Linked DNA regions of Homo sapiens. The protein of the gene in region 3 interacts with the protein of the main gene of each other region in a biochemical or structural test. Each region holds a gene or a part of one and is shown on either strand. Other genes may lie near its edges. The genes, in order: TRIM50, TRIM31 and NLRP3.

Evidence for each region.
Region 1: the proteins of NLRP3 (region 3) and TRIM50 form a complex in vitro, tested with the Homo sapiens proteins (one study listed by BioGRID).
Region 2: the proteins of NLRP3 (region 3) and TRIM31 form a complex in vitro, tested with the Homo sapiens proteins (one study listed by BioGRID).

What each region holds. Positions count from the first base shown.
Region 1 is NC_000007.14:73,311,961-73,315,136, reverse strand, and holds the end of TRIM50 (E3 ubiquitin-protein ligase TRIM50), read left to right. Parts: intron 1-1,467; coding exon of another isoform or gene 1,468-1,508; exon of another isoform or gene 1,509-1,626; coding exon 1,627-2,216; 3' UTR 2,217-2,601; downstream 2,602-3,176. UniProt on the Homo sapiens protein: E3 ubiquitin-protein ligase that ubiquitinates Beclin-1/BECN1 in a 'Lys-63'-dependent manner enhancing its binding to ULK1. In turn, promotes starvation-induced autophagy activation.
Region 2 is NC_000006.12:30,106,573-30,110,224, forward strand, and holds part of TRIM31 (E3 ubiquitin-protein ligase TRIM31), read right to left. Parts: intron 2,477-3,652; coding exon 2,454-2,476; intron 1,616-2,453; coding exon of another isoform or gene 1,597-1,615; coding exon 1,481-1,596; intron 1,216-1,480; exon of another isoform or gene 1,091-1,215; intron 1-1,090.
Region 3 is NC_000001.11:247,436,602-247,440,253, reverse strand, and holds part of NLRP3 (NACHT, LRR and PYD domains-containing protein 3), read right to left. Parts: intron 974-3,652; exon of another isoform or gene 721-973; intron 1-720. UniProt on the Homo sapiens protein: Sensor component of the NLRP3 inflammasome, which mediates inflammasome activation in response to defects in membrane integrity, leading to secretion of inflammatory cytokines IL1B and IL18 and pyroptosis.

The DNA.
Region 1 (3,176 bases), on a different chromosome or scaffold from region 3:
CACTGCCTCCCCAGTGATGGCGGATCTCATCACATTTGTTGTTGTAATTGGTCCTGGTAGCTTCCACCAGCTTAGCCCAAGCTCCTTTGTCTTCCAAGTTAACCTGTGTGAAGGCGACAGTGGTGCAGGTCTTCCTGGGGACTAGACATCCCAGTCTTGCCTTCCCCTTGATGATGCAGTCAGGGACCCCACTTTACACACAGGCACAGGCAGGAAGACAGCCAGCTTGATGGGACCCATGTTGCGTGGAGTCACCACCAGCTGAGCCTTCCTTTTTTTTTTTTTTTTTTTGAGACAGAGTCTCTGTCACCCAGGCTGGAGTGCAGTGGTGTGATCTCAGCTCACTGCAACCTCTGGCTCCTGGGTACAAGTGATTCTTCTGCCTCAGCCTCCTGAGTAGTTGGGACTATAGGCGTGTGCCACCACGCCCGGCTAATTTTTGTATTTTAGTAGAGACGGGGTTTTTCATTATGTTGGCCAGGCTGCTTGCAAACTCCTGGCCTCAAGTGATCTGCCTGTCTCAGCCTCCCAAAGTGCTGAGATGACAGGCATGAGCCACTGTGCCTGGCCCAGCTGAGCGTTCTTGTTCTCCATCAAGGTGGTGACGGTGTTAATTCCTGCTCCAAGGACAGGTGGCCTCTTAGTGGGGACATCCCCTTTGCTGGCAGCTTTCTTCTCAGTCAGGGCCAACAGTCTCTGCTTCTTCTCTTGCTTTGCCCCTGGTCTGTACTTCTGGGCCAGCTTAAGCAGCTGAATAGCTGTTTGGCGGTCCAGGGCCTGGGTGAACTGGTTAATAGCAGGAGACAGTTTCTGCTACTTATAGAGGATGGCTGTCCGCCACTGCACCCTGACCGAGCAGGACCATTGCACAAAGTGGGCGAGGTCCGTTTTGGCCTGGAAGTCCTGTCCAGTGCCAAAAGTCTTAGGCCTTTTCTCAAACGGGATAAACCACTTTCTTGGCCTCCTGCTTCTTCACGCCAGCAGGGGCCGGAGCCACCTTCTTCCCCTTGGCCTTCTTTCCTTGCGGCAACTTGGGTGGCGGGAAGGGGTGGGAGGCGGGCAGGGGGGAGCACATCTCACATTTCTGGGGTAAACGGATCAGCTGGTAACTAGCAAAAAGCTCAGGTGGGCTAGTTCGTCCTTGAATAGGCTGACTAGGCTAGCAAATCCAACAGCTGCAGTTGTTATGGGTTCTCCAGAAATCCCTGAGGGCTGAGCTATAGGCTCACAGGACAGGTGTCTTCCGGGTCCTTCCCACAACACCTCTGTGTCAGGCAGGCAGGCCAGAACCCCGAGCCCAGTGTCCATTTCTTTCTCCAGCCACCTCAGCCCCCCACAGCCCACCAAGCTGCTCCCTTTTATATAAACACTGTTTTTGCCTTGGGTGGATGCAATCAGTCTGTGATTGATCTTCCTTATGTAAAACTTCATTCATTCATTCATTCATTCATTCATTCATTCATTCAGGGAGCAGCCCTGTACTGGCCCCTTCTAGACCCTGGGGCTAGAGAGATGAGGAAGACACAGCCCCTCTCCTTGGGGAGTTCAGGGCCTCCATCAGCTTCTGTGGGCCGGGTCTGCTGCCCTCCACGTGGCCTCACAGACCCTCTGTGATCTCCCTCCCAGCCCCGGAGCCTCTCAAGTTGGACCCTGCCACTGCCCACCCACTCCTGGAGCTCTCCAAGGGCAACACGGTGGTGCAGTGCGGGCTTCTGGCCCAGCGGCGAGCCAGCCAGCCTGAGCGCTTCGACTACAGCACCTGCGTCCTGGCCAGCCGCGGCTTCTCCTGCGGCCGCCACTACTGGGAGGTGGTGGTGGGCAGCAAGAGCGACTGGCGCCTGGGGGTCATCAAGGGCACAGCCAGCCGTAAGGGCAAGCTGAACAGGTCCCCCGAGCACGGCGTGTGGCTGATCGGCCTGAAGGAGGGCCGGGTGTACGAAGCCTTTGCCTGCCCCCGGGTACCCCTGCCCGTGGCCGGCCACCCCCACCGCATCGGGCTCTACCTGCACTATGAGCAGGGCGAACTCACCTTCTTCGATGCCGACCGCCCCGATGACCTGCGGCCGCTCTACACCTTCCAGGCCGACTTCCAGGGCAAGCTCTACCCCATCCTGGACACCTGCTGGCACGAGAGGGGCAGCAACTCGCTGCCCATGGTGCTGCCCCCGCCCAGCGGGCCTGGCCCCCTCAGCCCCGAGCAGCCCACCAAGCTGTAGGGCCGCCCGGAGTCCTGCCGGCCCACAGGCCCATCCCGGCGGGGCACCGGGGACTCGCGGGCTTCTGCTGGGTCCCGCCTGAGGTGATATCGTCACTGTTTAGGAAGGTCTTCAGGCCTGTGTGTCCCTGGAACATGTAATGATAGGGAACAGGACCCCAGTCCCTTTCCCCTCAGCCAAGGGTGTATTTGTAAACTTCGGCCCCCAGGCCTTGGCAGCCAGGGACACACTGAAATCCCCATGGTTCCTGCCACTTGCTAACCATGCTATCTGCGCAGACGCTTCCGAGGGCAGAAATAGTCCCATGTATACCTTTTCCATATTACTGTGAACTTTCAACTACTATCAAGGATAATAAATTTGACATTATTTCTTTCTCTTTAAATGATTTGCACATATTAGTTGCTATACATACTGCTTTATGCTCGAGTCTTTTTTTTTTTTTTTTTTTCCTGAGATGGAGTCTCTCTCTGTCACCTAGGCTGGAGTGCAGTGGCACGATGTAGGCTCACTGAAACCTACACCTCCCGGATTCAAGTGATTCTCCTGCCTCAGCCTCCCGAGTAGCTGGGATTATAGGCATGTGCCCCATACCCAGCTAATTTTTGTATTTTTAGTAGAGATGGGGTTTCGCTGTGTTGGCCAGGCTGGTCTTGAACTCCTGACCTCAAATTATTTACTTGTCTCAGCCTCCCAAAGTGCTGGGATTACAGGCGTGAGCCACCGTGCCCAGCCTCGAGTCTAGTTTCAGAGACAGGATCTTGCTCTGTCACCCAGGCTGGAGAGCAGTGGCACAATTGTAGCTTACTGCAGCCTTGACCTCTCAGGCTCAAGTGATCCTCCTGCCTCAGCCTCCTGAGTAGCTGAGACAACAAGTGTCTGCCACCATACCCAGCTAATATTTAAATTTTTAGTAGAGACGGGATCTTGCTATGTTACCCAGGCTGGTCTGGGCCTCAA
Region 2 (3,652 bases), on a different chromosome or scaffold from region 3:
GGTAAAAATAAAATAAAAATAAGAGAAAAAAAAAAGAAGGAAATAGGGCCAGGTGGGAGTTGGGGGACTGTGTGTGTGTGAGTTTGTGTATGTGAAAGAGGGAAAGAAAAGGGGGATACAGAGTAGAGCACACCAGTCTCCCCAACTCCAAACCTGATGAAGTGGAAAGGGCTGGGCTCCTTTATTGAAATTCCAAACTAGAACCAAACTATTCTTGACCTGAAGAGCCTAGAAAGGTGCTGGATCGGGCTGGACGTGGTGGCTCACGCCTGTAATCCCAGCACTTTGGGAGGCTGAGGCGGGTGGATCACAAGTCAGCAGTTCGAGACCAGCTTGACCAACCTGGTGAAACCCCGTCTCTACTAAAAATACAAAAAACTAGCTGGGCATGGTGGTGTGCGCCTGTAACACCAGCGACTTGGGAAGCTGAGGCAGGAGAATCGCTTGAAACCAGAAGGCGGAGGTTGCAGTGAGCCGAGATTGCGCCACTGCACTCTATCCTGGGCAATAAGAGCAAAACTCCATCAAAAATAAATAAATAAATAAACAAATAAATAAAGTTGCTAGATCGGCTGAGATCATGCCCAGTGGGGTGGGAGGAGCTAGACAAAGCAGAGCAGTTAGTGGACAAAAGAAAAGCTCAGACAACAAAATTAAGAATAAAACAAAACATGCTTTCCTGTTTATGTCTGCCGAGTGGAGATTCCCGGCTGAATGGGTGGAGATCTTGGGGCATTGCCCTGGTCCTCCTTTTCCGTAGTCCCAAGGGGAAGTGTTTGTGTATGGGGGGCTGGGGGTTGGGGTGGGGGAGGTGGGTGTGGAACTCCAGGTGATAATTTCAGAAGATTCCATCTAGCTGTCTTTATGCCCACCTTAGACCAACACAGTCTTCACATTAAGGGGAGTCCTTACAAATACTAACCCTTCTTCCTAGTTGCAAACACAGAAAGGTTTATGAAAAATATCTGGCGAACATCTAAAACCCAAGTCATCCACTACTGTTCTGCTGATTTCTGTTTCCCTGTAAGGCTGGAAGAGGTTTCTCCCCAGAATGTCACTGATTTTGAATTTATTTTCTCTTCTTCTGTAGGCAGGAGGAGACACCAGTGTGCACCAGAGAAGGAGAAGTCAGAGATGACAGTCCCTGCCTGAGGCCATCTCTGGTCCACCAGACAACTCATCACCAACTTCCCAACAGCCACTGCTCTAGGCCAGGTGTCCACATGGGGAATAGGTCCAGGCCCTCTATGGCTCTCGCAGGAGTCAGGGAGGCAGATAAATAACATATCACAAAGACAGAATATAAGAAATGCCTGGGAGGAGGCATACTGATGCGTGGAAAGTACTCAGCCAGAAGCCTGGCACTAGAAGGGCCCAGGGATTGTTGGCATGTATGAGTCACAGTTCCATTTCAGTGGAGTGAGCAGGGAGAGAATCTCCTGGAAGTAGGTGAATAGAGAAAATACAGCCTCTTCCTTACCTTTGAATTTTTTTAGGCTCCCTGTGATGGAGTCATGTCTTGATTTTGCTTCACTGAGTTTTTTCTCCAGTTCCAGAGGAACAGGGGTTGGGTTGAGAAACTGAAACTCTTCACTTCTAGGAAGATGTGGTTGAGCTGGTTGGTGAGATCAGGGGATGAGGTGTGGGAGAAGGAGGATCTGAGATACGCGGTTGAGAAATGAGGGGATGAAGACCTGGGGGTAGAACTGAGAGCAGTGGCTCACACCTGTAATCCCAGCACTTTGGGAGGCTGAGGCGGGTGGATCACCTGAGGTCAGGAGTTCAAGACTAGCCTGGCCAACATGGTAAAACCTGGTCTCTACTAAAAATATGAAAATTAGCCAGGCTTGGTGGCAAGCGCCTGTAGTCTCAGCTACTTGGGAGGCTGAGGCAGGAGAATCACTTGAACCTGGGAGACAAAGGTTGCAGTGAGCTGAGATTGCACCACTGCACTCCAGCCTGAGCAACAAGAGCAAAGCTCCATCTCAAAAAAAAAAAAAAAAAAAAAAAAAGAAGACCTGGCGGTTAAGGGATAGTGAGCTGGGAGTCAGAAAGTCAGGGCTAGGGATATGGGGCGGGAGTGAGGTAGGGCATAGGGAGATATGGAAATGAAGATGGGAGATGGAGACAGAGAGGAGGGAAAAAAACAGGGTCAGGGAGACAGAGTAGGGGACCCAGGAGCTATTCAGTTGAGCAAGGGGGCATTCAGGAAATAGTAGAATCTGTGCTGAAGAAGGAGGAAGGCTGAGAAAACAGCTGGTTTCTTTAACAACCAACCACGTGCTAATATGGTTGGCATAGGCATTCCCCGGCTGCAGCCTAAATGTATGAATGCAGAGTTAGAGGTGGGTGGGTATTTCTGAGAGAGGAATGTTGACTGCATTTGGATATACGCTGAGAATTGTGTGTGGATGAATCAGTAGGCAAAATACATTTGGGGTGGCCCATCATACCTGCACAAGACGACTTTGATATCCTAGAAGAGAAAGAGAAACAGCACAGCCTCAGCACTTGGCTGATTCCCAGGAGCCAAGGAGGAGATACAGAGCCTGCTGGGTGTGGGGCAGAGCAGGAGGAGTAAGAACCCCTCCAAGTCTCTCTTACCCCATCCTCCTCCCCTCTCCCCACCACGAAGGGCTTCTCCAAGAAGCACTGCTCTGCCAGTAAGCAGAAAAGTGTTTTGACCTCAAGAAGAACTGAGTGAAGAAGAGAAGAGTGAGATTTAGAAGATGAATTTGGCTCTGAGACTGAACAAGGGAGCCTGCTAGCCAGGGCAGGAGAAAGGCTAGAATGGCTTTGCATGATCTTTCTTAAAATAAATAAATAGGTTTTTGAACCTGTGGGAGAATAGATGACTTGAGGAGGAATCATCTCAGCTTATTTTAAGCACCAGCTAGACTTGCACTGTCCAATATGGTAGCCACCAACCACATGTGGCTACTGAACATTGGAAATTGTGGCTAGTGTGACAAAGAACTGAATTTTTAATTTCATTTTTACTAATTCAAATTTAAATTAAAAATAGAGGCCAGGCACGGTGGTTCACGCCTGTAATCCCAGCACTTTGGGAGGCTGAGGTGGGCAGATCACTTGAGGTCAGGAGTTCGAGACCATCCTGGCCAACATGGTAAAACCCCGTGTCTGCTAAGAATACAAAAATTAGCTGGGCGTGGTGGTGGGGACCTGTAATCCCAGCTACTTGGGACTTGGGCCTAGGAGGCGGAAGTTGTAGTGCGCCAAAATCGCGCCACTGTACTCCAGCCTGGGCAACAGAGCAAGATTCCATCTCAAAAAATAAAATAAAATAAATAGAAGAAGGGTAAAGTACTTTTTCCATTAAACACAACTTTATTGATTTGGTAAGACTATATTTTACTTTAACAATTGACAATTTAGCATCTGAATTGAGATGTGCCAAAGTGAAAAATATACACACAATTTCAAAGACTCAGTGTAAAAAAAAAAAAAAAAAAAACCACCAAAAACCCAGAATGTGAAATATCTCATTAATACTTTTAAAATATTCATTACAGGCTGAAAGGATAATATTTCAGATATATTGAGTTAAAATATTTTATTAAAATTAATTTCACTTTTATCATTTTAATGTGACTAACTAGAAAAATTTGTAATTCCATATGTGGCTGAAACT
Region 3 (3,652 bases):
ACCAATGTTGCAAATGCTCAGCATGTGTGACCCTTGAGCAGTATTGAGACAGGCAGTACACAATATGCAGCCAGAGATGAGGACCCAAAGTTCGAGAGAAAAAAATGTAGCTATACCTAACACATAGGCTATACCTAACACATAGGCTATACCTAACACGTAGGCTATACCTAACCCATAGGCTATACCTAACACACAGGCTATGCCTAACCCATAGGCTATACCTAACACACAGCCACATGTATGGCTGTACCTAACACATAAAATGCATAAAAGTCTCGACTGATTAATGCCACTTATAGATACCTATCTCAAAGCAAATACACATGCATAAAACTATATATACAAATGTGCTTTTTGCAGAGTTGTTTGTAATAGTGGAAAAGAACAGTTATCCCAAAATGCATGATTTGATTAAATAAATTATGGTAAAGCACACTATGGGATATTATGCCCCAATCGATAGATCTACACAAATCAGCATGGAAATTTATCCATGATAAATGAAAAAAGGATATCACAGAAAAATATTTATATTATGGTTCTAGTTTCAATAGATAGGGTGTTATGGATTGAATTGTTTCCTCTAAGACTTTATATGTGGAAGTCCTAGGCCCCAGTACTTCAGATTGTGACCTTATTTGGTGATACGGTTACTGAAAATGTAATTAGTTAAGATCAGGTCGTTACAAATCTAACATGACTTGTGTTCTTTCACAGGGAAACTTGGGACATGGAGAAAGACACACACAGACACAGGGAAGACACCACGTAGAGATAAAGGCAATGGTGTGGCAGAGGCATCTACAGGTCAAGGAATGGCAAAATGTGTCAGCAAGATGACATTCCACCAGAAGCCAAAGAGAAGCATGAACAGATTCCCCACAGCCCTCAGAAGGACCCAGCCTGCTAGCATCTTAATCTCACACTTCTGGCCTCCAGAACTGAGGGACAATAAATTTCTGTTGTTTAAGCTGCTCTGTTTGTGATACTTTATTACAGTAGCTCTAACAGACTAGGCATTTAAAATACTACATAACAATGTATTACAAATGCAACATGAAAATCACATAGGTCTTCATTCACATTACTGATATAAATACCACCCAGATCAGCATATACAGGAAATCCATTTGTCCATAATTAGCAACCAATATATGTTCACAAAGCTCTGATACTCCCTTGGATGGATTGATGGATGGATGGATGGATGGATGGATGGATGGATGGATGGATTGACGGATGGAAAATAGAGGGATGGATGATGGATGGATGGATGGATGGACAGATGAATGGATTATATAACAATCTATTGTATTAAAAAAAGTCTGGATGGTTGTTCATCAGACTATTGTAAATGGCTCTCTCAGAAGAGGGCTGAGAAGGAGCTTTCACTTTCCACTTTGTCTGTACTATGATATGTTTACACCAAGCATGTGTTACTTTTCTAATAAAAAGTTTGTGAATGATATCTGGGTTTGAGACCTACTGTTGTTGAAATTGAGAGGTATATGAGAATTCTCAGGGAGTTTAGAAATATTTAGTAACAACAACAACAAAAAAGGTAAACCAGGCGGGTGTGTGGCTCACGCCTGTAATCCCAACACTTTGGGAGGCCAAGGCAGGCAGATCACCTGAGGTCAGAAATTCGAGACCAGCCTGGCAAACATGGTGAAACCCCGTATCTACTAAAAATACAAAAATTAGCCAGGCATGGCAGTGCACACCTGTAGTCCCTGCTACTCAGAAGGCTGAGGCAGAAGAATTGTTGGAACCCGGGAGGCAGAGGTTGCAGTGAGCCAAGATTGCGCCACTGCATTTTAGCCTGGGTGACAGAGTAAGACTCCAACTCAAAAAAAAAAAAAAAAAAAAAAACACAACTAAACCAGTCGTGAAATCCCCAGACCACAGGAAGAGAAGCCAATGCAGGATCCAGGGAGGGGGAAGCTATAACATTAGCAGGAAAGACTAAGTAGTGACCTAAAAATAAGAGCGAAGAAGGCTTCCAAAGAGGAAGAGTGAAATGAATTAAAGGCAGCAGATGTCAACTAAAGTAAGGACTGGGAAGGACCTGTACGACCTATAAGGACCCAGCCTGCTGATGCCTCAGTCTCAGACTTTGGCCTCCTGAACTGAGAGGCAATAAACTCTTGTTGTTTAGGCCGCTCTGTTTGTGATACTTTATTACAGCAGCTCTACCAGGTTAGGTATTGACAATAGTAACTACATAGAGCATATTACAGATGCATCAGGCACATTTGTAATTGGCTTGTTTGTCATGTGGAATTTGGAACCAGGATCACTGAGAGTCACCTGAGTGCCTACGCCTGGGCCTCTTCGGTTCCATCTGCTTTGCCTGGAGGGCTCTTCCGGCTCCTTCACAGCCCATCCCACGCTTCACTGAGCACCTGCTCCAATGTCACCCGCTCGGAGAGGCACTCGCCAAACGTGAGCAGAGAAGCACCCCTCGCCGTCACTCCAGTTTTTCTTATAGCTCTTATACACAGGGTATATTGTTTAGCATGTCTATTATCTGTTATCACTTCCCTAAAAGAACGGTTGTGAAAACAGGATTTTGGTCTGTTTTACTCACTGCTGCTGTCAGTGCCCACCACAGAGCCCCCAGAGGGCCTGCAAAATGAAGGGACAAAATCATGTCTGTTGAACAAACTTAGAGAAGCAGAAGTCAAATTGCCAAGGAAGAGTAATATTCTAAGGCGATTTGCTAAGGAAGGGTAATACCCTAAGGCGAGGAAATGAAGGCACTGCAGGAAGACTTCATAGAAAGAGATATGGTCACATCTGAGGATTGGCTGATGGGAGAGGTCCAAGGAAGTATCAGAGCTTTGTGAACAGAGGTTGGTTGTTAATTATGGATTAGTGGATTACTCCTCTGGGAAGACCTTTCCTGCCAAATTTTGTCTTGAATGCTGATCTGGCTGGTATATATATTAATAATGTGAATGAATGAAGACCTATCCAATTTGCTTATTGTATTTGTAGATATTATTGTCAGAATGAAGATTCAAAACTGCCTAGTCAATGGGTCAAAAGACAGGTAAGATGAGGTTTAGCAAAGCTAAATTGGAGGTCCCACCCTTAAGCTGAGAGCCAGATGAAGAAGCCCTGTAGAGAGCCCATTAGCAACATCTCCTAAGGCAATGCACTGGGAATTAAGGCAGTGGCTTGGGAGGTCACAGACGTTTGTCTACACTGAGTTCCACTACCTTCTCTCTGAGTGTCCTTGGACAAAGTTATGAGGCTCCCTGAATTTTATTTTCTCCTCTTTAAATTGGAGACACAGATACCCTACCCTATAGCATCTTTCTGAAGCCAACTGAGAAAATCCATGTAAGAACATGAAAGAGCAGGTGATACAGGGAAAGTGATACAGGAAAGTGGTACAGGGAAAGTGCATGATTATTAGTGGGTATTCCCTACTACTGTTTACTGCAGAATTCCAACATGAATCAAAAGGCTTATGTAACTGCCAAAAAAAACAAGGAAATCAGAGATTCCACCAGTGAAACCATAGTTCTCTGCAACAGGAGGTAAAACATCCACCATGCATCATCAGGTCTGGGCACCACATTTCAAAGACAGACACTAACAAACCAGCCTGTGTACCTGGGAGAGCATGGCTACATAGGTG